Homo sapiens: one gene and its partners. Changing the gene in region 6 together with the main gene of any one other region gives a genetic interaction. Each region holds a gene or a part of one and is shown on either strand. Other genes may lie near its edges. The genes, in order: FBXO41, RPRD1B, SLC25A33, SLC30A9, ARID2, STK11 and DHX35.

Region 1 (3,500 bases), on a different chromosome or scaffold from region 6:
ATATCAATAAAGACCATAAACAAAAGTAAAAGCCAATCAACACACTTGAGAAAAATATTTGAGGTATATAAATGACACAGGATCAATAATATTAAAAGCTTTTGTAAATCGATAAGAAAATATGAATGTTCAGTATGAAAATGAGCAAAGTAGTGCACAGGCAAGTTACCAAAGAGATAGAAATGGCCAGTGTATGTGTGAAAAACTGTCCAGCCATCACAATCAAGGACATGCAAGTGAAACAGCCAGGCCACTTTCCAGTTTCAAATTGGCAAGAGCACAGGGGCCAGATCGTGAAGCTGAGGAGTTTGGCTGCAGTTGGTAGTGGATGGGGGTGCCCTTGAAGGAGTCTGAGCAGAGGAATCCGATGCCTTTACAGATGGAATGGAGCTGCGGGACTGAAGGCTGGGCCAGCAGTCTAGATGTGATGAGGTTGTGGCCTGGAAGAGTACAAAGCATGAGAAAAGAACAGTTGGGTTGAAAGCACTTGGAAGGAAAAACCAGTAGGTCTTGATGGTTAGCAGAGAGAAAAATCAAGATGGCCAGTGCTGTGGCTGGGAGGACAGTAACACCAAAGGAAACAGGGGTGCTGGGTAGTAGGTGAGGAGAAGTCTGGGATTTGTTTTTGACACTGTGGGCCATTGTGTTAGTCTGGAGTCTCATTACTAGAGACTGGCAACCGACCCAAATGATAAAAGCTACAAAAACATTTGCAGCCCTTCTCAATGGTCAAGTCCTGGGTTAGAGCTTCAGGCACATCTGGATGTGGATGCTCAAATATCATCAGGGGTCCTTTACTTTTGTCTCAAAGACAGGGCAAAAATGGCCACAAGAGGCTCCAGGCTCACAGCCTACCAACTGAGCACAGCTCCCGAAGTGACTGTATCGGCCCAGACTGAGAAATGAGTCCATTACTGACCTGACCACTGTGATTCTAATGGAACAGACTGAGGTCATGTGTGTTCCCTGGGAGCCAATGGAAGCTGTCAGCCCTACCCAAATCTATTCAAAGTGCAGGCAATGGTTCTCAAAGGGAAAATTGGGGATCAATTCACAATAAAGAGGGACTAGAGCCGGGCAGCAAAAACAATAAAAGTCCACTGTATTTCACTTCTTAGATGTCAAAGATCGACACAGACCCCCTTTACTGTGTAATTTTAAAAAATATTTTCCTGTTTATCATAATGCAACTATCCCTCACCAAACTTAAAGCACAGTTATCCCACTTCTGGGAGGAGACATTCCAAGTTTTCACCCAGTTACCACATCTATCCCCAATTCAACATCTTGGCAATGGCAAGGGGCTGTTTGTTTGGTTAGGTACTAAGGTCATGGTCTTTCCATTTAAGGCCCAACTACAATGATGGAGAGAAAACTGTATAGCTGGAAGAAGAAAAACCCTCCTAGTTGAAGAGGGGGGTGAGGAAAAAAACCTGGACCGTGGTCCACATGCTTGACTGAATGGTGAGGAAGAGGTTTCCTGGTACACCAATCTCACTGCTCTGATTTTGCTGTCTCTGTGAGAGGGGCATTGAAGGGTGCATGTTTGGGGAGGTTCAGGGCAACCATAGGGGCTGAGCAATCCTTTGGTTTGTGGGGGCTTTCTGGCAATACAATCCCCTTAATCCCTGGGAGGCTTTTCAGTCAGTTTGCATTTGGTTATCCCCAGAGCTATTAACCAAAGCTAGAGACCTCTATGAAAGTTATGGTTCTTGAATGAAGTCCCTGGTGGTGGTGTAGAAGGAGGGAGGGGTTATCTCTTAGCAACAGGCCTCAGTGTTCTGCCCATCCCAGGAGCCCTTGGTTCTGCAGCCTCTAACTGGGCCTCTGCCACAGGGCAAAGCAAACTCCAACTTTGGGGAGGGAGGCAAAAGGTCATCTGCCCCTTCTCACTGAAGCTGCATCCCAATGGAAGGCTGCTTATAATGGAAGCTTCTGTCCAGCTGGGAGGGCACAGCAGGAAGGGTTCAGCAGGGCCCAAGGAGTTGAGTACCTGTCAGGCCCCAGGCTTATCTCCCTCTTAGTTCCCAGCCTCTTTGTCTTCGCTTGAGCTGACTTTAGCTTGAAGCAAAGAACTGGCTCTTAATTATCTGACTCTCAGCCATATTGAATTACTGGCTGCAGGCAGAAAGGGCCTCTCTGGGCAAGCCCAAATTTTCTTCCTCTCTGCTTTCAGATGGGCTCCTTTCAACCAGAGTGTGTCTCTTGCTTGTTGGACCTTACTGAGGCCGTTGGAAAGACACTCCCAACATCCTGACATTTTTCTACAAATCCCCTAATGTTCCAGCCATGGTAGGTACATGGCCTGAGCTCCAGGGATGGTGGGAGACAGTTTAATCATCTGCTTTGCTGCTGCTCTGTTCACCAACCTGTGAGTGGGGAATGGGGGAAGTAGTGCCAGCTTATGTCCCCCTCCTTAGTTCAGCTAATTTCTTTTGTGGATCTATTAAAAATTTCCATCTCTGATTCTAATTTCTTGGTTAGGATATTTTCTGGGTGCAAGTAACACAGATCCAACTGTAACTAGCTTAAGCAAAAAAGGGAAATAGGGGCTAGGTGCAGTGGCTCACACCTGTAATCCCAACACTCAAAGGCTGAGGCAGGTGGATCACTTGAGGTCAGGAGTTTGAGAGTAGCCTGGCCACCATGGTGAAATCCTGTCTCTACTAAAAATACAACAATTAGCTGGGCGTGGTGGCACATGCCTGTAGTCCCAGCTACTCGGGAGGCTGAGGCAGGAGAATCGCTTGAACTTCAGAGGGGGAGGTTGTAGTGAGCCGAGACTGCACCACTGCACTCCAGCCCAGGTGAAAGAGTGAGACTCCATCTCAAAAAAAAGAAGTTGGGGGGGGGGGAGTGCAGAATTGATTGGCTTGTGTAACTGAACAGGCCAGGCTCTCAAACAGTGTCTGTGAGGAATGTGTTTCTCCATCTAAGTTTTGCTTCTTTGGGTTGGCTTCATTCCCAGGTGTCTCCTCCCAAAAGGAGAAAGGATGGCACCAGCAGCTCTGGCCTTCTCCATCAGCTTAGAAACCTGATCCCAAAGACAATGCTTTCCCTCAGTCATTCCAGAACAGTCCTGGGGCTCACTGGCTCAACTTTGGTGCTCTATGTTTACCCCACGACTGATTTGCCAGGTCTATGTCATATCCCCAAGACCATGTGGACTGAGAAAGTGGGGAAGGATGGTTCCCTATGGTCAAAGCAGGGTGCTGTTACCAGGAGGAGGACTGGATGCTGGGCTGGCAAAAGGAACAGACATCCACCCATACATCCTGTGGAAATGCCAGAAGGCAACACAACTATGCGGCAGGTCAGGATGGAGAAGTAGAGCTTACAGGTGCAAGTAAACCTGTGTGAGGGAAGCTGACTGCCTTCCTAGGGGGAGAATAGAGATGGAGGGCTCCAGAGGCAGACCTCAGGGAATGAGGACGTTTAGGAAGGCAGCAAGAACAGGAAGTTGCAGAACCCAGGGGAAAATCCAGACAGGAAAGCTCATG
Region 2 (3,500 bases), on a different chromosome or scaffold from region 6:
AGAAAGGCCCCACCACTGGAACCAACGTACAGAGTCTGAACTGAAGGTTCTTATCTCAAACCATGTCTCCGAGGCACATGAGCAGAACCATTTATTGTAAAAAATAGAGCCGATTTGCTGCATTAAAGAAAGCAAATGACTAGATACAGTATAAGGTTTTTTTCTGAGATGGAGTCTCGCTCTGTCACTCAGGTTGGAGTGCAGTGACGTGATCTCAGCTCACTGCAGCCTCCACCTCCCAGGCTCAACCAATCCCCCGTCTCAGCCTCCTGAGTAGCTGGGATTATAGATTATAGGCATGTACTACCACGCCCGGCTAATTTTTTTTGTTTTTAGCAGAGACAGAGTTTCACCATATTGGCCAGGCTGGTCTTGAACTCCTGACGTCAAGTGATCTGGCCGCTTCACAATATAAGATTTGAGAGATGGTTTTAGTTCTTTTCTTTATCCACGCTTGCTAAAAATTTAGGCAGTCTGCTCTCCTGAACCTAAGATTTTTCTCTCACATTCTGTAATAGACTGGTCCTGTCCCATCACATCCCTATGGTGGTGGCCGAACTTGATAAATGTATGCCCCTTGAAAGATGCGTGAATACTGTGAATTCCTTCAGATTGTCCAAAAGTCTCTCTGCGTGATGGGGCAGTACATAAAGTTTACCCACTTTTTTAACATTCATTTTTGTAACACAGCCAGTCCGTTTTAAAACTTCCAAATCAGAATGCTAATTAAATATTTTATTTTTTAATCCTTTCATTGCCTTCAGGATATACATAGATGAAATTCTCAGAACTCTTTGGAGAAGTAGTTATTTGCTTGCGAGTCTGTTTTCATCCCAAAGCTCTAATATACTTAGGTTTTGTGCTTTCCTTTTTAACTTTGTATCTTGCTTTATGTAATAAGCATCTTTTTCTCTTTCACTTGGGAATTTTATGTCGGTGGCTCCTGCATGTCAGGATAGGGCGTGTGATGATTCAGAGCCTAGGATGTAGGAGAGGGAATTACGGCTCAAAGTAGGAGATTGTGTTTCTTCCCTCGAGGAAATCATATTCTGGTATAAAAAACACAGGTGAACATAAAACCAAACCACTTGATCGTACATAATGTAGATTAAGGAGGCATTTGGCGGTTCTGATTGTGGTTTAAGGTAAGTCCAAACTTCCTGTCAGGCAATAAAACCTTTTTGTAAAAGGAACTAGCAGTTGAAGAAGAGAAGCATGTTTATAAATGGGGAGCAGTTAGACTGGACCAGACAGGTATCTGAAGAAAGACAAAGTCAGATGTGGGAAGGAGGTGCTGCAGACCACCAGTGGGAGATTAAGGTCTGTGCTCTTTAAGAAGCTACGTATTCATTCAGGGAGTCAGCAAAGCCTGTGCCAGCCAGATGTACAAAGATGGGCACGATGCACTTCTCCCCTCAAAGGGCTTATGCTCTAGTCAGGGGGAAATAGCAGCAAACAAGGGGTTAGGGTAGAATTCAAGATAGGTTGTCAGTAAGGAAAATATTCTCACTTGTGTCTACCTTGAAATAGACCAAGAAAAAAATGAAGATGCTAATAATAATTTGATCAGATGCTTATTAAAATTGTGAGAGTTATCAAATCATGGACAGTTTCTGAAACTGTAATGCCTTCAGCAGGTCTCCCAAAGTTTGCTAGACTGTATACTCTTTGAGTGCTCTCACAGTGCCAGGAACATATTTGTTCCTCAGTAAATACTTGTTCTGTGAAATCCATCACTTGATGTAACCTTTTTCTATAGAGAAAAGGGTTTTTTTTTAAGGTTGCATTAAAAGTGGCTTAACAAATCTGATTTAATGATTGGTTGTAAAGAATATGTTAGTACGGAAAGGTAACCATTTTTAGAAGTTTCTGTAGGTTTTCTCCTTTGTACTACTTTTCTTTTTTCCTTTAAGTAGAATTATGCTTTATTCTGAGATAATCATCTTTTTTTGTTTGTTTGTTTTTGACTTTTGCTTCAGGGTGTCATGATTGACTTTGGCCTATGATGTTGGCCCTTAAACACCAGGCAAGGGTGGAAGGAATGCTGCTGAAAATCTGTGGGTAATGTTTTTGTCATGAACATGAGAAAACCTAGAAATGGAGAAGGCACGTGGAAGGAAGCACAAATGGCAGCCCAAAGAGGAGGTTAGAGAATGTGGAGGGTATAGAAGAAAGCCCATTCAGAAAGGCAAAGGCCAAAGATACCAGAAAAGCCTTCCAGCTTCACTTCCAGAGCAAAGAGAAGCTTTGTTTGTGGTTGACAGAGGTGACTACATTACTCCCAGATGTCTGCTCAAAGCTCATAAGACATAGCGTGAGTGGGTTGGATAGGGTTCCTGTCTTGTCAGCGTGAATAAAGCATGATACAGACATGTTCTGTTAGCATGATCAGTGCATGTGGAAGAGTGTGTGTGTGAGAAAGAAACCTATTTGTACAAGTATTAAGGAAAGAAAAAAGGTCAGGAACCTGCAGTTTTCCCTTCTTAACTGTGATTTTTTTTTTTTTTTTTTTGAGACAGACTCTTGCTCTGTTGCCCAGGGCTAGAGTGCAGTAGAGCAATCTGAGCTCACTGCCTCCCGGGTTCAAGCGATTCTCGTGCCTCAGCCTCCCGAGTAGCTGGGACTACAGGCGCATGCCACCACACCCAGCTAATTTTTGTATTTTTAGTAGAGATGGGGTTTTGCCATGTTGGGCAGGCTGGTCTCGAACTCCTGATCTCAGGTGATCCACCTGCCTTGGCCTCCCAAAGTGTTGGAATTACAGGCATGCGCCTCCATGCCTGGCCTTAACTGTGAATTTTATTCAGATCATGGTGTCTGACTGTCAGCGATCTAGAACTGAAAGCAGATAGTCCTGTGTTGACCCACATGCCACATGGTGCACACACACAAAGATGATATGCCACACAGGGAAGAGCTCTTGAGAAATTTGTTCCAAGCTGCAGATTTATTGTTTTAGTTGAGGTGAAATTCATATAACGTAAATTAACCATGCACTTCAAAGTGCACACATTTTGGTGGCATTTAGTACGTTCACAGTATTGTATCAAGTTCCAAAACATAATTGTGTCTGGCTTCTTTCGGCACGATGTTTTCAAGATTCATCCCATGTTGTAGCATATATCAGTACTTCATCTCTTTTATGGTAGAACACTAATCTGTTGTATGGATGTGACACAGTTTATAACCTGTCTATGGACATTTGAGTTGTTGCCACCTTTTGGCTCTTATGAATAGTGTTGCTATAAACAGTCATGTGGAGGTTTTTGTGTGGCCATATCTTTTCATTTCTCTTGGTTATGTATAAATCTAGGAGTGGAATTGCTGGGTCATATGGTAATTCTATGTAACATTTTGAGGAACCATCAGACTGTTTTCCACAGCAGCTACATCATTTTACATCCCCACTAGCAATGTGCGTGGGTTCCAGTTTCTCCACATCCTCATCAACATTTGTTATTGTCTCTTTATTTTCGACAACCTACATGTGCAGGTTTATC
Region 3 (3,500 bases), on a different chromosome or scaffold from region 6:
TTCTATAACTCAAAAAAATAAACTTACCCAAAGTAGCCTTAAGGCTCCATTAGAAATAGAGGCTGAATGATTATTATTATTATTATTATTATTATTATTTTTTTTTTTTTGAGACAGAGTCTCGCTCTGTTGCCAGGGTGGAGTGCAGTGGCTTGATCTCGGCTCACTGCAACCTCCACCTCCCGGGTTCAAGCGATTCTCCTGCCTCAGCTTCCCAAGTAGCTGGGACTACAGGCGTGCGCCACCACGCCCAGCTAATTTTTGTATTTTTAGTAGAGACGGGGTTTCACCATGTTGGCCAGGCTGGTCTCAATCCCTTGACCTCATGATCCGCCCGCCTCAGCCTCCCAAAGTGCTGGGATTACAGGCGTGAGCCACCGTGCCCCGCCGAGGCTGAGTAAGTTTGGCTCCCATATTATCATTTTGATTCAAGGAATATTAAATACAATCCAGATTTTTAGCTTCCTTGAAAACAGCAAAAGTTCAGCAACCCAGGACCTGCGTTTCTGCACAACAAGTTTTGGCTATAATCAGCTGGATTTGAGTAAGGTCGAGTTCCCACCACTCACGTGACCTCTGTCCATGCGGTTAGAGCTGTTTCCCTCATACTCACTGACCTTACCTGCAGGGATCCTGCGCCTCAATGTGCGCCTCAGAAGTCTAGATATACCCACAAACAACAAACGTGACAGCTGTTTTACTGCTCTGGAAGAACAAAAGCAAAACATACCGTGTGGATAAGCAATGCAGGAGGCACAGCCCTTAGAAAGAGCAGCAGCTGCCATAAGTCCAAAAAAACTTGTGGAATTTTTCTCAGTCCCATTTGCAGAAGAGGCTAATGGAGCTTCTTTCAGATACTTCTTTAAACTTTCATAAATAGCAAAGCAGATTATAGTTTCGGAAATTCCAGCATACGAGGCAGTTAATCCTCTATAGAAGCCACGAATGCCTTCGGTCTGGTAAACGTAACGAGCACACTGGAGTGTATTCATCTGCTTAGAGCCCCTCACTCTGCATAAAAGAGACCAACACAGGCTGTTAAGGAGACATATCATGGTGGAACACAGACATCACACAGTAGGAGAACAGGTACGGGTCTTCCTTATGGTGTTAGGATACTTGTTTCCTGGCTCCTAACTCTCATAGCCCTTGTCTTTCGTTATGTGGGGTGTGTGAGGCCGCAGGGGCAGCCTCTGACAGTCCCTTGATCTCCTTTCACCTGCCCCAAGGCCATCCTCTAATGTCCTTACCTTGTTGGTCTTACTCCATGAGAGTCCCCTCCTATCTCTGGGAGAAGGAATGCTGCTGACATGAAGCTTCCAGAAAAACCCAAGAGGACAGGGTTCAGGGAGCTTCCAGAGCTGATCGCATGGAGGCTCCTGGAGGGTGGCCCCCGGGGAGGGTATGAAAGCTCCACGCCCCTTACTCTGTACCTGGCCCTACCTGTCTCTTCTTCTGTATCCTTGCGATGTCCTCTATAACAAACCAGTAAACATTAAGTGTTTCCCTGAGTTCTGTGAGCCACTCCAGCACATTAATAGAATCCAAAGAGAGGGTCATGGGAACCCCAACTTGAAGCTGGTCGTTCAGAAGCTCTGGAGGCCCAGACATACAACTGGTGTGTGGGTAAGTGGGTGGGCGGGGGGTGGGCAGTCCTGGGGACTGAGCCCCCAATCTGTGGGGCTGTCTCCTGGTAGACAGTGTCGGAAGTGAATGAGAGGACACCCAGCTGGTGTCCGCTGTTTGGTGTGTGTGGGGAAAACCCCCTACACATTTGGTCACAGAAGTCATCTTCTGTGTCAATGACTGTTGTGGTGTGACAGTGGAGGAAAAACATGGTTTGAGGAGAGTTTTTCCCACATATCTTTGTACTGTTGTCAGCTGACCTCCAGCCCACTGTGAGGCCAGACCAAGTAGCTGGCACACCTGACAGGCCCACAGAACACTAGCTACATCTGTATCAAGAGTCATAGAAACATGTTCATAAAAACATTAGCATTTGACCTAATTTTAGAAAGAGCTGCAGGGAGCAGTAAGGCTCATCACAGAGGAACTACAACTGCAAAACAATCAGGACAACAATCCAGATAGCTGACCACGGTATATCTGCTAGATTAAGTCACAAGGCCGTGAGACACAGGGAATGCTTTCAGTGGAAAACAGGACTAAGTTAAAGGTAAAGGATGATCACAAGGGCTGGGAGCAGTGGCTCACACCTGTAATCCCAGCACTTTGGGAGGCCAAGGCGGGAGGACTGCTTGAGGCCAGGAGTTCAAGACCAGCCTGGCCAATGTAGTGAGGCTCTATCTCTACAAAAAAGTAAATAATAAGAAAGAAAAATAGGAACATTCCAACCTGTTGGTGAGGCTACTTATTAGATTTCTGATCACACTCGTCTCCAAATAGATTCTATTATTGCTAAATTTATAAAATCATAAAACATCAAAATAAAACAGCAAATGAAAACCATGAGGTTTAGAGGCTCCTACCCCAGGACAAAAAGCATTTATGAACTGCCTGGCTGCAAGGCAAGAGTGAGCCACCAGATGAGTGTAGTTAGGTGTGCACCGGTCACACATCACAGACCCCTCCGAGCGGGCGCAGACCTGGGGCCCCTTGGGCTTCAGTCTCAGCTGGCCTCTCTCCCTTCTTTATTATCTCCGCATAGACTGTTCCCGCTCCTTAGCGGCAGTGACCTTTCTAACACAAATCCAACCATGCAACTCCCGTGCTTAAAACCATCCAGAGGCCGGGTGCGGTGGCTCACACCTGTATTCCCAGCACTTTGGGAGGCTGAGGTGGGCAGATCACGAGGTCAGGAGATCGAGACCATCCTGGCTAACACGGTGAAACCCCGTCTCTACTAAAAAATACAAAAAATTAGCCGGGCATGGTGGCGGGCACTTCCCAGCTACTCGGGAGGCTGAGGCAGGAGAATGGCGTGCACCCGGGAGGCGGAGCTCGCAGTGAGCTGAGATGCACCACTGCACTCCAGCCTGGACAACAGAGTAAGACTCTGTCTCAAAACAAAACAAAACATCCAGAGTTTCTCACCCTTGGCGCTATTCACATTTGGGGCTAAACTATTCAGTTTGGGGAGAAGCAGGCTGTCATGTGCCTTGTAGGGTTTAGCAGCATCCCGGCCTCTATTCACACTAGGCACCAAAAACACTCACCTAAGTTGTGGCAACTTCAAATGTCTCCAAACTTAAATGCTGAATGTCCCCTGGAGGGCACCCCCTACCTCCATCCTCCATTTCCCCTGAGGACCACTGCTCTGATGACTTTCCACTGCCCTCAAAGCCCAACTCCAAACTCCCTTTCAGGCCTGGGAAGGATCGGGCTCCCCTGCTCCTCCAGCCTTATTCTTCCATAACTCCCTTCTCCAGCGCAGATGCACGTACTACACGCCAACTACACTCCCTGTCTTACGGCTCCCCAGAACTAACCATGCTTTCTTTTCTTTTTTCCTTTTTTCATTTTTTTGAGATGGAGTCTTA
Region 4 (4,168 bases), on a different chromosome or scaffold from region 6:
GATGTGCTGAAAGTGTAAAATACTCACTGGGTTTTAAAGACAGTACAAAAAGATGATGTAAAATACTTCAATAATTTTGATATTGATTACATGTTGAAATATTTTGAATATACTTAATAAAATAGTATTAAATTTTATATATTTTATTATTAAAATATATAAATTTCGTTATTAAAATTAATTCTAGGATATATTAAAATTAATTCATCTTTAATTTTACTTTTTTTAATGTGGCTATCAGACAACTCAAAATTACAAACAGGGCTCTCATATTTCTTTTAGACAGTTTCTATTTTGCCTTTAAAGGCATTCCTCATTTTTAAGTATTCAAGCAATCCCTCAAGGTTTCCTCCTCTCCTTATGCTTTATAAGCTTTTCCCAGCCACAGGCATTTTAGAAGCATAAACTAAACCTTACTTCTAGACAAATAAAAACAACTGTTTTTAGATTTTCTTTCTCCAAAAGTTCTTCAAATAGTCTTCTCACATGCATCCAATTTAAATAGTACTCTTTTTCTAAATGATTTTTAAATTTTGCCATAATAATGGTTGCCCTTTTAAGAAATGCTTCATTACTGAAACTAAATTTTCACAAAGTTATTTTTAAAAACCTACTAAGCATTTTTAAGTGTAAAAAAAATTTTAATTTTTTGTAGTAATAAACATTCCAAACAACTTTGCAAAGTCATTTTGACCACTAAGGTAGGTAATAATTATCTGTGTTTCACAGACAGATGAGACAAAGAATACATAATTTTCAACATAATGACAGCTACACAGAAGAGGGATTACAAATTACACTGTTTCTTCTCCTTTTTGCCAACACTTAAAGGGCAGTTTAGACTAAATTTAACAGCCACTGTAATTTCAGTGTAAAATGCCAAAATTGCTTGGTCAATAGAAACAATTGTGTTAGAAACTTACTTGGGGATTCTGGAGTACAGTATAAACGTATGATTCATTTTTCTTTTTCTTTTCTTTTTTTTTTTTTGAGACAGGTCTCACTCTGTCACCCAGGCTGGAGTGCACTGGCATGCTCAAGGCTCACTGCAGCCTCAATTTCCTGGGCTCAAGCGATCCTCCCACCTCAGCCTCCTGAGTACAGGCTAGGATTACAGGCGCGCGTCACCAAACCAGGCTAATTTTTTGTAGAGAGGCAGTTTTGCCATGTTGCCCGGGCTGGTCTTGGAACTCCTGGGCTGAAGCGATCCACCCACCTCAGCGTCCTAAGGTTTACAATCTTCCTGAGGATTAGCAGCATGAGCCACTGCACCCAGCCGATGATTCATTCTGTCCATAAGGGAACCTGGCAGTATATTGCCAATATGGAAAAACTCAACAGTTACACTTTTCTATCACTACCAAAAAAGCCCTGGGAATAGTGCTGTTAAAATTTATCCGTTTGAAATTCTAAGATTCAGCTTTACATTTATTGCAAATAAAAGATACGAATATATTCTAATTTATATCCACAGCATAGTTACTATAGCTTATATTACATAAAATCTCGAATGACTGCAACTTCCGACTTCTTTCAGGAGGTCACGAACATGTTACAGGTTTTTTCAAACCTATGTTTTTACAGACAGCTCACTATGTTGCCAAGGCTAGCCTAGAACTATTGGGCTCAAAAGATCTGCCTGCCTCAGTCTCCCGAGTAGCTGGACTACAGGAGCGCACCACCACACCTGGCTTCGAACATGAATGTTTCGGTAAATACTCTCTGCATCCCAAGAATGGAGGGATTAGGTTAAGGGTGGACTTAGTTCTGTCTTCTCCCTCAGAGATCCTATCAGTTCTCAGTGTCAAGCAATGTGTGTCAAGCTACGGCAAAAACGAAGGTAAGCCTGATTAGTTCAATGTTATTTTGGAAACTCTCAAACCATTTAAATTTGAGTCAGAAAAGAATGTTGAGAGAGACGAAAATTCTCTTCAACCACCTTTTTTTCTGGGTTACCACTACAACTGCCACCTTTTCACCAAAAAGACTGCTCAGCCGAACTGAAGAGTTTCTTTGTTTTTCGGACCCAAACTGGGTTCATTCAATGATTGTCGGATACTTTCGTACTTCTTCCAAAAGATCCGTAGTGAGTAGCACCCCTCCTTCCTTTTAGAAAATTTAAGAAAATAAGTTGGGAGAGTAAGAAAAAGAAGGCCAAGAAAATCTCAACCAAGTGCTAAATGAAGGTGCGCTGGAAAGCTCCAAAGACCCTGGAACTTTGCGGAGTCCGCAATTTCCAACCGCGGAGGTGAGTAACCGCGGGACACCGCGATGCGCACGTAACATTTTGTTTGGTACAAAGCGGTAGGCTTCAGAGGTGCAATCCGGCCCGCGAGGTGCCCACAAGTTCCCGCGGGGGCCATGCTAGGGCTGCAGAAGGCATCAGAGTCAGAGACCTGTCAGGACCCCCGCGGGCTGCGCAGGCTGAACTGGAAAGGCGGAGGCCAGAAAGGAAGGTTCTGAGGTTGGCGAAAGGCAAGTGGGCGAATTGCCCCAGGCGAGGCGCCGAGCCCAGCCTGGCCCTCCAGTTCGGCTTCTACGGAGCCAGCGGCCAGCGCGGGACACTCACCCTGGCGGTCGCTGGGATTACAGGCCGCCGCCCTGCATCGCAGACGGAGCCGGCACAGGGAGGACCAGCTACATCTGTGGGCCGCGGCGGCGGCCAAGCCGGGTAACATCCTGGTGGGGCAGAGGCCCCTACTCGGACACCGCCTTCTGCCTCCGCGCCGCCACCGGTACCAACTGACTCCATAGACTGGACATCAGCGAACACCGATGGCTTCGCCGCCACAAGCTGCCTGGGTGACCCGGAAACGGCAACGTCATTTAGCGACGCCTGCCGTGGAGGTAGCGGAAGTGACGTAACACGTTGAGCACCAATAGGGAGGCCTTCCTTCCCGGGGACCCAGACTCCCAAAGTGGGGAGGGCGTGGCTGCAGGGGAAGTTTGGTGTCTGCCGTCTTCTTTTGCACCTGTACTTTTGCGCTTGGTTGGAAATCACGTAAACTGTTTACATCTTGTTCAGCCAGGAAAGCTGTCCTTTGGGAGTTCTACTTATTCCTTTTTTTCTGGACTCGAAACCGGGGCCGTGGTTTCGGAAATGGGAGGAAAGATGGGAAGGATGGACGCAGGTTTTCTGAGCCTCTCTACCTAGAGCCTGCCAGGATAAACCCAAATTAGAACCAACATGTCCAGTACTCTCCGAACGTCTGCCACGTACATCGTTCTCCTTGTTAACACCAGTGTGTATCCAGTATCATAAAGGCAAGTACACACTTCGGAATCAGCTACTTGCCCTACTAATCTGTGAACCTCAGATTTTTGCCTGCAATATAAGAGGTTTTATGTTCATGACAAGTTAGGGTAAACGGAGGTATGCAGACTTCGAAACATTTTGGTCCCAGGGAGAAAGAAACCTGAACAGTATCCACGTTAACTGTTTCTCTCTGCCATGCTCATTCAGCTCTTAACTCAAACTCAAGAGAGGCCTTCCTTGACCACCCTAGCTATGGTAGTCCTGGTCATTCTCTACCCGGCTGTCCTATATACTTTTCTTCAAAACGCTTATCACTATTTGAGATTTTTTTTTCTATTTTGTGTCCTAGAATAGAAAATAAGCATCATGATGCTGGAATCTTGTCTATTTTGTACATGGCTGTATAAAGCCGCTAAAACAATGCCTGGCAAAAATAAATTGAATGGAATGTATGGTGGTTTGTTTTAAAGTTAATCTGAGTCGCTTATCTATATTACTGCAAAATAACTATCTCGGGGAAATTTAGTATGTCCTTAATTTTTAAAAAAATCAACAAGTCTCTTATACTAATTGAGATAAGTATAACCAAATGAGGAAAGAGATTATCGTTAAGAATGGTAAGCAAATTTAATTTCCTATGACAAACATAACTTAAAATATTCAGTGGACAAACATTAAAAAATGATGTCCCATAAATGTAGGCTCAATATTACTAAAAAATCTGAATATTACTGGAAAGTTACTTTCCCTTTCTTGTAATAGATTTTAATAGAAATTCAACTTTATGAAGTAAAAATACATAAAGGCTTACCTCTTATTTTATGGTAACTATGCAAACATCTATTAACTTTTATGGATAATTCTTTTTGAACAAAACTAATCTCATATTTTGGATTCTTAAAATGGCTTTGG
Region 5 (3,500 bases), on a different chromosome or scaffold from region 6:
ACATCTAGCTTAACTATATCCTAAATGCCCCATTAGCCATAAAAGCTGTTTTCTAAAAACTTATCAATCTTAAATTTTCTACCCAAAAGATCACAATATTGATGTGGCTATCTATATAATGAGAGATTATAAAAGTGAGCATCATCTAGCTAAAAAAAAGGGATGCTGGGGGCTGAGAAAAATGGTAAAAATCACCCAGAACTGTGGGATGGATAAATGGACAGATATGTGATAAAGCAAGTATACTAAAATATTCATGGTAATAGCTAGGTGGCAGGTATAAAAAATTTCATTGCAAACATTTCAAATTTGCCTATGTGTGAAAAATTTTATATTAAATGTTAAAAAAAAATATCAGCCAGCATGAGATTACCCAGGAACCTTGGTGCCTTCATTAAAATAACTCCGAATAAAAGAAACTACAGGAGAAAAAAAGAGAAGATGAAGACACGTACATTTTGAATTAAAAAACACTGTAGAAAAGAAGTTTATGGAAAAGATGCAAAAATTCAAAATCAAAATTTAATGTAGGGACTGGAGTCACTTTTACTATAGTAAAGCAAAGGAAAAGAAATGAGCAAAAAATGAGACTGAAGAATAAACAGTTGGGCATCTTTTCATGTTTTTTGGGCCATTTCAGTTTTATGTAGTTTCCATATATACATACCATCACACACTCAAAAGAGTGGATAAAATTAAACATTTTAATTACAATACCAAATGTTGGCAAGTACATGGAGTAGCTGAGACTCTCATACATTTCTATAGAGTGTCAATTGATAAAATCATTTTGGAATTGGTTGGCATCATGTAGCAAACTTTTAACATCTTATGAGTCACCAATCCTTTGAAAACACTCAACAGAAATATGTTCCGTATATGGCCAAAAAACAGAATATGGTTTAGAATGTTTATAGCAGCATTACTCTTAATAGCCCCAAATTGGAAATAACCCATTTGCCCATCAAAAGCAGAGAAAAAAATACAATAATATGAATAAAATACTATCATGCAACAACATGAATCAATCTCAAAAATATAATGCTGAAAATAATATTGTATGATTTCACATATAGAAAGTTCAAAATCAGGCAAAATGAACCTCTGGTGTCACAGATCAGGATAGTGGTCCCTTATAGAGAGGAGGATGGAGTAAAGATTGGAGAGAACATGAAAGATTTCAACTGATATTGCTCTATTTCTTAACTTGGACAGATAGTTATATGAGTGGTTCAGTTTGTGATAATTCACTGAACTTTACACTTCTGTTTTATAAAATCTTTATGATTTTCTTTAAAATTTTATTTAACAACTTTTAAAATAAAGTATGAAATTTCTAAGATCTTTCTGGAAAAGAAAAATTAGTTGTACAAAAATTGATTTAAAAATTTACAAAACGCTTTGGGAGGCTGAGGCAGGCGGATCACGAGGTCAGGAGTTCGAGACCAGCCTGGCCAACATGGTGAAACCCCATCTCTACTAAAAATACAAAAAATTAGCTGGGCGTGGTGGCAGGAGCTACTTGGGAGGCTACTAATCCCAGCTACTCAGGAGGCTGAGGCAGGAGAATCGCTTGAACCCAGGAGGCAGAGGTTGCAGTGAGCCGAGACTGCACCACTACACTCCAGCCTGGGCAACAGAGCGAGACTCCATCTCAAAAAAAAAAAAAATTTACAAAATAAAAATAACTTTACAAAGTACAATCAGTTTTTCCCCACAATCAATGAATATTTTAACAAAGAAAGAAAAAAGACTTTAGTTTCAAAAAGTTAACAAAATCATATTTTTCAAAGTGATAGTCACATGTTAAAAAGTATTCTTTTATTTGAATATTGCATGGATAAAACTAGAAAGAATAAACTGAAATCACTAGGATGATTTTAAAGTAACTAATAATTTCCTTTTTGATATAAATGTTTAATTTTTTGAGGTTTTAAAAAATTAAGCACTCACTTTGTTTTGATATAAAACAAAACATGCCTAATTTGTTTTTTTATAAAATGATATTCTTTCAACTTCTAAATTCACATGTTAGTTTTTTGAGATGATTTAACAAAGAATAAATATTGGGTCACTCTAATATCCTTAACAGATAATAAAAATAATTTCTAAGCAACACTAGTAAAAACCATTTAGGATACAAATCAGCTTCTAAGAAAACAAGTTTAAACAAGTTTCTTTCCATTCCCTCCTCAAAACAGTACGAAGGGTAAAAGAAATTTATTTTTTGCTAGGCGTGGTGGCTCACGCCTGTAATCCCAGCACTTTGGGAGGCCGAGGCAGGTGGATCACTTGAGTTGAGGAGTTCAAGACCAGCTTGGGCAATATAGTGAGACACCCTCCCCCACCCCCCACCTTACAGAAAATTAAAAAATGAACTGTTGGGCATGGTGGCATATGCTTGTGGTCCCAATTACTCAGGAGGCTAAGGTGGGAGGATCACTTGAGCCCAGGAGGTTGGAGGCTGCAGTGAGCCATGATGGCCCCACTGAACTCCAGCCTGGGTAACAGAGCAAGACTCTTGTCTTGGGGGGCGGAGGATAAGCAAACCCCCAAATCCTCAGAAATTTGAGGAATTACAAGGAAAGAGTAACCATACACAGATTGGGAAAAAACTACAAAAGTAGAGGTGTTAATATCCTCAGAGAGATGAGAAGACACCACTAAGAACAGGATGTTATAAAATAGTAACAACTGGCAACCAATAACAAGCTCTTAAAAATTAAGGAAATTTCCGGCTGGGGGTGGTGGCTCATGCCTGTAATCCCAGCACTTTGGGAGGCTGAGGAGGGCGGATCACGAGGTCAGGAGATCGAGACCATCCTGGCTAACTAGGTGAAACCCTGTCTCTACTAAATATACAAAATATTAGCGGGGCATGGTGGTGGGCGCCTGTAGTCCCAGCTACTCCAGAGGATGAGGCAGGAGAATGGCGTGAACCTGGGAGGTGGAGCTTGCAGTGAGCCAAGATCGTGCCACTGCATTCCAGCCTGGGCAACGGAGCGAGACTCTGTCTCAAAAAAAAAAAAAAAAAAAAAAAAAAAAAAAAAATTAAGGAAATTTCCAAAAAATAGATTAAACAGAGAGAAAACAGAAAGCTAAAAGAGAAAAGAAAAAGAAACATACCAGAAAAGTTCCCATTACTGAAGGATATAAATCTCCAGATTGAAAGGACCCACCAAAATGAAATAATGACTTCAATGAAAACAACAACAAAACACCCACCGAAGACACATCATCATCAAGAAACCTCAGAATATTCAGAAATAAAGAGATCACAACAGTTTCTAGAGGGGGGAAAACAGATCACATACAAAGAAATGGGAACCAGAATGTCACTAGTCTTCTCAACAGCAAAGCTGGTGCTAGAATACACCAAAGCAATGCCCTCAGGTTTTTAAAGAAAAATGATTTTTCAATCTAGAATGTTATGTACAGCCAACAACTATCAAGAGTAAGGGTAGATTACAGACATTTTTAGGCATGTAGGGTCTTAAATG
Region 6 (3,500 bases):
TCCACCCTGAGGCCTGTGTCCCAGGTGGCACTCAGAAGCCAGCACCCACCAGATGGATGCTGGCTGCAAAGCCAGCAAAGGCCAGAAGGGGGTCTGGGGGGCCCTGAGCACATCCCAGCCCAGGAGGCTATCGGGGGGCAGCCCCAGTCCCCGCCAGGCGCCCAGATGACCCGAGCTGTGCAGAGACCCCCAAGGCACAATCAGCACCAGCGCCTCAGGGGTCCGGACACTCCCACTCCCAGAGCCGGTCTCAGTGGGTGGCCTCGGGGCTCGGAGGGGCTCCAGCAGACGGCTCAAGGGCCTCCAGGGGCTGGTGCAGAGGAGCAGAGCCCACGAAGTGAGGGAGGCGGCACTGTGGGGCCTGCTGACCCCGTCCGCTGCTCTGTCTTCCCTGTCATGGAGCTGGGGGCCCTGGGCTGGATCCCAGCCACACCCTGCTGCTGGGAGCCCCAGGAGGAGGGGAAAAAGAGAGGCTCTCGCCAGTGTTTGGGACCAGCTGTGCCCTTCCTGGCGCATCTCCATGCCTAGGGCAGGGACGGACGCATGTCCTCACTCAGACCCCAGTTCGGACAAGGCGCCTGGGTCTGGCCGGTAACAGGACACTGCCCAGAGACCCCACTCGGGCCCCGAGAACTGCGGGCGCTGCACGGGGTCTGGCCCCAGCCCAGCCTGGCACCCCCACCACGCCCTGCTCTAGCGCCCGCTCAACCAGCTGCCCACATGGCCGGCCTCCCTGCAGCCTCGGCCCCACTGCCCCCAGGGGCCGCTCACCTGTGCTGCCGGATCTGCCGGATGGAGAACCTCTTGGCCGGTTCGTACTCAAGCATCCCTGAGGAGAAGCCGGCGAGGAGCCTGTCAGCTGGGCACAGGCCTGAGACCCCACCAACCGTCCCCGCCTGCCCAGCCTCTGTTGTCAGGCCCTGGGTGATACCTGGACGCTCCTAAGGGGGACCCCGCGCACAGGCGGTCTCCCTGACAGAGGCCACTCCACTCCTGGGACATGCCGGGGACAGCCTGTGCGCGGCTGGCAGGGAGACAGGGCTGGGCTGGACGGCCAGGGCGGTTCCGTTCTCCCAAGGCCACTGGGCAGATGGACGGACGGCCAGTGCCACCTGCTGCCATGCGTAGGAAGTGCAGCAGGACAACCCTGACAGACCCTGCAAGCCAGGGAGCCCCCGAGGGTGGGGCTGGGGGAGGCGCAGGGCAGCACTGCCCTCTGGGGTGGGAGTTCGGAGGGTGAACAGGGCCCAGAAGCAGGGTGGAGCTGAGGGACCTGGCAAACCAGGCCCTGCGGGGAGGTCGGCCTCTCCACTCAGTCCTCTCAATGCCTGCTGGGGTCTCGGGGCCAATAGCCCCCCACCTGACACCCCCAACCCTACATTTCTGCACAAAAGCCCCGCCTCCCTGGGGCTGCGGGCAGAGGGATGAGGCTCCCACCTTTCAGCAGGTCAGAGAGCGGGGGGCCACAGTCGCCCGGGATGGCGTAGCTCCCCTTCCCGATGTTCTCAAACAACTTGTAGATGTTGTCCCCTTCGAAGGGGTACAGACCCGTGGTGATGTTGTAGCTTCATTTCGAGGGGAGGGAAGAAAGGCGTGGTCAGTCAAGGTGGTTGACGCCCTAGGAGCCCCAGCTCTACCCCAGGGACAGAGGCGTCCCGTGGCTGCTGGACCAGAGGCCCTGTGGACTCAAGGACACCTCTGTCTTCACCACCTTCCACTAGTGGAGGCTACGGGGTAGGAGGGGAGTGTCCTCTGGACCCACCCGGGGAAGGGGCCTGGAGCTGCTGTCACCCGCCCAGCTTCCCTGTGGGGCTCTGGGAGGAGGGTCGGCCGTGCCACTCTGTGAAGATCCCTGACGGGCCAGGCTGCACTTCACACGGGTGAACCACCATCTGCCGTATGAGTTACATTTCCATAAAGTAAGCACCCCCTAGCGGCTGTGGCCAGAGAGGGTCTGGGCCGGTGGCCACGCCCTGCGCCCACAGGCCGGCAGCTGCCCAAGACGCAGAGGCCCCTCGGAGTGTGCGTGTGGTGAGTGCCCGGGGGGGCGGGGCACTTACAGGGTGACCCCAGCCGACCAGATGTCCACCTTGAAGCCGGAGAAGGTGTCCAGGCCGTTGGCAATCTCGGGCGGCTGGAAAGCCGGGGAGCCCTGGCTGGTCCGGCAGGTGTCGTCCGCCGCGAACGGGTGCAGTGCCTGTGGCGGTGCCGTGCAGCCCTCAGGGAGTGCCCGGGAGGGGGCGCCCCAGGGCCCCCCCTAGCACGTGCCTACCTCGGCCACGCCCAGGTCGGAGATTTTGAGGGTGCCACCGGTGGTGAGCAGCAGGTTCCCCGGCTTGATGTCCTTGTGCACAATGCCCTGGCTATGCAGGTACTCCAGGCCGTCAATCAGCTGACAGAAGTACCTGCGGGCAGCACACACCCGTCCTGGGGCCGAGGCCTCCCTGCCCCTCACAGGGGTCCCCTTTGCAGCTGCCTGGGAGCCTCCCAAACACCACAGGCCCAGCTGGGAAGTCACAGAAGTCCAGGCACACAGGACAGAGGAAAGGCTAGGTCCAGCAGGGAGCCACACCTGCGCCTGCAGTGGCCACCCTCGTCCGGCCGAGCCACGTCTGGCAGGGCCCCGGATGTCCACAGGTCTCATTTTCCTGTGGGCCACAGGCCGGCTGCACCCCAAAGTCTTGCTGGAACAGCAGGCCCCTCCCTGCCCCTGTGGTCCTGCAGCAGCAAGGGGCCCTGACTCTGAGGCCACAGACCTGCATCCAGGAGATCTGGTCAGGGCAGGCGGCTGCCAGCGATGGGCTGGAAGCAGGCCACTGGCCTCAGGCAGCAGGCCCAGCAAAGATGGAGGCGGGAGGTTGGCAGCAGCCCTGCCTGTGGATGCCACACATGGGGGACCCCAAAACTGTTTTTAAAAACTTGGGCCTTTACAAGGCCGGGCGTGGTAGCTCATGCCTGTAATCCCAGCACTTTGGGAGGCTGAGGCAGGCGGATCACGAGGTCAGGAGTTTGAGACCATCCTGGCTAACACGGTGAAACCCCGTCTCTACTAAAAATACAAAAAATTAGCCGGGCGTGGTGGCGGGCGCCTGTAATCCCAGCTACTCGGGAAGCTGAGGCAGAAGAATGGCGTGAACCTCGGAGGCGGAGCTTGCAGTGAGCCGAGATCGCACCATTGCACTCCAGCCTGGGCGACAGAGTGAGACTCCATCTCGAAAAAAAACACAAAAAAACAAAAAAACAAAAAAACTTGGGCCTTCATGTCAATGAATATCAGGACAAGCAGTGTGGCCTCACGGAAAGGAGCCTGCCCTGCCTGGCCCCCGGCCCCCGCCCCACCCTGGCCCCTGCCCCGCGCACGCACCCGTGGGCCTGGCACACTGGGAAACGCTTCTCCGGCACGCTGTCCAGCATTTCCTGCATGCCACACACGCAGTACTCCATCACCATATACGTGGGGCGCTAAGGACACACAGCTCAGGGGGCGGCCCCACTCACAG
Region 7 (3,500 bases), on a different chromosome or scaffold from region 6:
TACATGGGGAGAACTCGGAGGTGTCTCTTCATCCCAGTGCGAGCTAGTGCTCGAGCCTGCTCGATGAGCATCGACACAACAGTTTCTACCTCTTCCTAAAGACGTTGAACCAGGAACCAAAGAAACCGAGATCAATTTAAAGCATGCTATTTTATCATACTGAAAGAAAATAAAAGTTGGGATCTGGACTTTAATTTTGGTCAGATTCAAGAATTTCAGTGCCGTCATGTTCCACTCTGGGATGGTATTTAATTAAATGCTAATACACAATGATGACAATGGGTGAAATTTTGCAACTACACTATTAGTTACTAAAAACTCGGTATGATCTGCAATGAATGGAAGAGTTCCCAATAAATAAAAACGATGACTATTTTACTCAGCATACATATACGGTGTCAAACAAGCATCTCATGCATATAGACAAGTTGCAGCATATAAAATCACTGTAAGCTTTCTCCAAAAAAGATTACTGAACCATGGAAAGTGTTTGGCAGTGGAAAAGATTACAGTTGGAGGGCAGGTCTGAATAGTGCTGGCCACCGTCAGCGAGCACTTGGGTCTGTTCAGTTGTTTTACCAGTAATATGGCCACTTATCACCTCCAGGATGAGCTGTAAAGGTGTCACTGGAAAAAGAGGTACACAGCAGCAACATGTGTGCAGGACATGGACCTAATGTAGTATCCAATTCTGGCAAACAAAATAGCCCTCACTCAACTACCTAGTTTATTTTGGAATCAGCTAATACATTTAAAAAAACATTTAACCCTCTGCAGACAGAACAGGCAGGGGCTAACGAGTCCCTGACAATCTAGATGGTAGATGAATGACATCAAATCAATTTTCTACACAATTATGGAACCACAAAATACAACAAAACATGAAATACATGACTGAGTAAAGTAACAAGGCTCTGTATTACTTTTGGTGCTGTCTTAACATGTCTATTCATCAGAGAAGTACAGTGGCATTACCTGGCCAGTAAGAAATGCTAAAACGTCTCCGTCTCCCTCTGTCTGGTGAATTTTCACCACAGTTTCGACAGTTGATTTGATATAATCTGGAACAGGACTGAAAAGACAAATGGGATGAATTCATCACTAGAATATGCTCATTAATTACAGATCAATTACCCTAATAATCTGGCAGCAAAGCTCATCAAAGTGAGTTTGGGCCTGCCCAGTAGGTAATTAGTACAGGATAAACAAAATAAATATTCATTTTTTTCAAATCTAATATTCAAGAATAATCCATAATTATATGTCAACTATGATTTTTAGCTTTATTTGGAAAGAAATAACATGATATACCCATACAAATAGATGTGCTATCTTTAGTATGCAAAGACATCAGACCAGTGAAAATCGGAAGCTGTGGTCCCAGTGCTGAAGCCCACGCTCTTCCCAGCCCATTTTCCCTCCTAACCAATAGCAGCATCTATGGGTCGGCTGGATGGCCCTGATGGATGAGCTCTCCAACAAAACGATTCAGAAATCAAGTCCACGACTCTGGATTTATCAGCCACTGGAACAGGCTCCTGGTCTTTTTTTGTCCAGTGACTAGTACAGGAATTAGGATGGCCCCTTCCTTGTCCAAGTAGGCTACTCCTAAAAATGCCAACTGGGCCTTCTCGCTAGGGATGTAGAGAACTGAGAGCCAAATGATTCAAATCACCAATACTGCCCCTGCTGACAGGCAGCCTTGTAAACCCCAGTTCTGAAAACTATCAAGCTTCCCTCCCCAAAACCTTTCACCACTTTTGCTCTCTCTGGCTGAGCTACTGGCCACAGACTTACGGAAACTTGCATGTCAGTGTGAACAGTTTAAACTAAATTCAGCAGTGATCCGGAGCAGGGTAAGAACATTCTAGACCAATGACTAGGGACACAAAACATGCTCCTCCCCATCCTTTAGAGTTGTGAGCAAATGCAGTTCTGACATTCTACATCAGAGGCTGAGTTTTCTAAACACCATCATCCAGAATTCAAGCATCATCAAACCTTTGTAGATAAAAGATATCCACCGGAAATGTTCTCCCTTCCACTGTAAGGATCACACATGTATCCCTTGCTGGATCACTGGTTTCATTTTGATTAAAGAAATCCCGGAATTTCTAAAAAGAAAAAAATTAATTCTTCATTTCTCTTAGAAAAAAAGGTTCGTAGCGATTCATGGAAAGAAAAAATAATATAAAACTTGCCAAAGACAGGTGAGTAGCAAGATTATATATGTGCAATACAGATTATGGGTTGCAAAATACATTTTTTAAATTCACATTTTTCTAACTGTAATTGTGGGGAATCACATTTCAATGACAGTGTCTTTACTAAAGTTTTAATAAAAATAATAAAGGTTAGATTTCAAAACTGCATTCAGCATAGCATCTGAGTTAACATGTAGCTTTAGTATTATTTATATTATTCCTATCCTCTGTATTTCATTTAAGCAAAAATTAGGTCAAAGGTGTGACTCAAGTTCAGTACAGGTTAGATGAGGTTGGTGGGTAACTCTATCTGGAAAACACAGATATGATCATTTGATAGGAAACTTTTCCTTCTGTGAACAGTAGGTGTGTTTCCGGCCCCATTGTTACTGGTTTTAGGCCACTTGATGGCAGGGATAGTGTCTTCTCCATCTTTACACGCCCTACAGTAGTGAGTGCGAGGCTTTGTATGGGGTAGGCCATCAATCATGTACTTCCCCAACACTCGTGCAGTACCCTGTTGGGAGAAGTGTCTCTTGGCAGTTTCTGCCAAACAGGTGTCCACATCCTATTTAATGGTACTTGACCACCACTTGCAGCCCACAAGGAGACCTGTCTTGAGGGCTCCAGCCAATGATGGGGGAAGGAAACGCCACCAAAGATCCTCTCTTGGGGAATGTGACCCTAAGGTACAAAGAGAAGCTGAGACTGAGAAGAGCTAAGTGACCATGCAGGCAGGCAAGTGAGCACCAGATGGGAAGCAGCTGGTGCCCACTGCAGAGGGGGCATGGATATCCCGTCGGGTGGAGTGCTCCATTATTTGAATCTGGGTGCCCTTTCCATTCCCCACCTCTACTCATTTCCCTGAGGCCTGGCTACATAACTACAAAGCTTGTCTTTATTTCCCTATGTACCTTTACAAAACATGCCCATCCTGCTCCAGGAAACCCAGGAGCCCAGGAGCTGTGCTAACGAATGGCATCAAACGCTAAGTGAAGGGGCTCTGAGGGGTACTTTTAAAAGAGTAAACTGGATTTAACCACAAAATACAGGGATGTTATATATTAACCTCAAAATTGAGAAGAATAAGCACAGACATCAAAGTGCCTCATGTCAACAAAACTATGTTTTGCTATGCAGAATTCCACACAGTACTCCTGTTCACTTTCTTTTGGGTAAATTCCCTTCAAGTTGCTTCAGCCTTCCTGCATCCCTATGACATGCACAGCACAGGTACACTAGAAGTGACATACAAACAAGTGGGAACAGACACCCCATGCCCCAAAAGAGTAAACA

The links.
Region 1: changes in STK11 (region 6) and FBXO41 together harm fitness more than expected from each alone (negative genetic interaction), as found in Homo sapiens cells (one large-scale study listed by BioGRID).
Region 2: changes in STK11 (region 6) and RPRD1B together harm fitness more than expected from each alone (negative genetic interaction), as found in Homo sapiens cells (one large-scale study listed by BioGRID).
Region 3: changes in STK11 (region 6) and SLC25A33 together harm fitness more than expected from each alone (negative genetic interaction), as found in Homo sapiens cells (one large-scale study listed by BioGRID).
Region 4: changes in STK11 (region 6) and SLC30A9 together harm fitness more than expected from each alone (negative genetic interaction), as found in Homo sapiens cells (one large-scale study listed by BioGRID).
Region 5: changes in STK11 (region 6) and ARID2 together harm fitness more than expected from each alone (negative genetic interaction), as found in Homo sapiens cells (one large-scale study listed by BioGRID).
Region 7: changes in STK11 (region 6) and DHX35 together harm fitness more than expected from each alone (negative genetic interaction), as found in Homo sapiens cells (one large-scale study listed by BioGRID).

Annotation. Positions count from the first base shown.
Region 1 is NC_000002.12:73,270,979-73,274,478, reverse strand, and holds part of FBXO41 (F-box only protein 41), read left to right. Parts: intron 1-1,349; exon of another isoform or gene 1,350-1,464; intron 1,465-2,176; exon of another isoform or gene 2,177-2,292; intron 2,293-2,968; exon of another isoform or gene 2,969-3,500. UniProt on the Homo sapiens protein: Substrate-recognition component of the SCF (SKP1-CUL1-F-box protein)-type E3 ubiquitin ligase complex.
Region 2 is NC_000020.11:38,068,246-38,071,745, forward strand, and holds part of RPRD1B (regulation of nuclear pre-mRNA domain-containing protein 1B), read left to right. Parts: intron 1-3,500. UniProt on the Homo sapiens protein: Interacts with phosphorylated C-terminal heptapeptide repeat domain (CTD) of the largest RNA polymerase II subunit POLR2A, and participates in dephosphorylation of the CTD by RPAP2. Transcriptional regulator which enhances expression of CCND1.
Region 3 is NC_000001.11:9,577,465-9,580,964, reverse strand, and holds part of SLC25A33 (solute carrier family 25 member 33), read right to left. Parts: intron 1,012-3,500; coding exon 731-1,011; intron 1-730. UniProt on the Homo sapiens protein: Mitochondrial transporter that imports/exports pyrimidine nucleotides into and from mitochondria. Selectively transports uridine, thymidine, guanosine, cytosine and inosine (deoxy)nucleoside di- and triphosphates by an antiport mechanism.
Region 4 is NC_000004.12:41,989,162-41,993,329, reverse strand, and holds the start of SLC30A9 (proton-coupled zinc antiporter SLC30A9, mitochondrial), read right to left. Parts: upstream 2,801-4,168; 5' UTR 2,679-2,800; coding exon 2,570-2,678; intron 1-2,569. UniProt on the Homo sapiens protein: Mitochondrial proton-coupled zinc ion antiporter mediating the export of zinc from the mitochondria and involved in zinc homeostasis, zinc mobilization as well as mitochondrial morphology and health.
Region 5 is NC_000012.12:45,900,706-45,904,205, reverse strand, and holds part of ARID2 (AT-rich interactive domain-containing protein 2), read right to left. Parts: intron 1-3,500. UniProt on the Homo sapiens protein: Involved in transcriptional activation and repression of select genes by chromatin remodeling (alteration of DNA-nucleosome topology). Required for the stability of the SWI/SNF chromatin remodeling complex SWI/SNF-B (PBAF).
Region 6 is NC_000019.10:1,219,278-1,222,777, reverse strand, and holds part of STK11 (serine/threonine-protein kinase STK11), read right to left. Parts: intron 3,455-3,500; coding exon 3,365-3,454; intron 2,406-3,364; coding exon 2,273-2,405; intron 2,198-2,272; coding exon 2,061-2,197; intron 1,566-2,060; coding exon 1,438-1,565; intron 830-1,437; coding exon 772-829; intron 1-771. UniProt on the Homo sapiens protein: Tumor suppressor serine/threonine-protein kinase that controls the activity of AMP-activated protein kinase (AMPK) family members, thereby playing a role in various processes such as cell metabolism, cell polarity, apoptosis and DNA damage response.
Region 7 is NC_000020.11:39,000,344-39,003,843, reverse strand, and holds part of DHX35 (probable ATP-dependent RNA helicase DHX35), read right to left. Parts: intron 2,115-3,500; coding exon 2,002-2,114; intron 1,073-2,001; coding exon 976-1,072; intron 96-975; coding exon 1-95. UniProt on the Homo sapiens protein: May be involved in pre-mRNA splicing.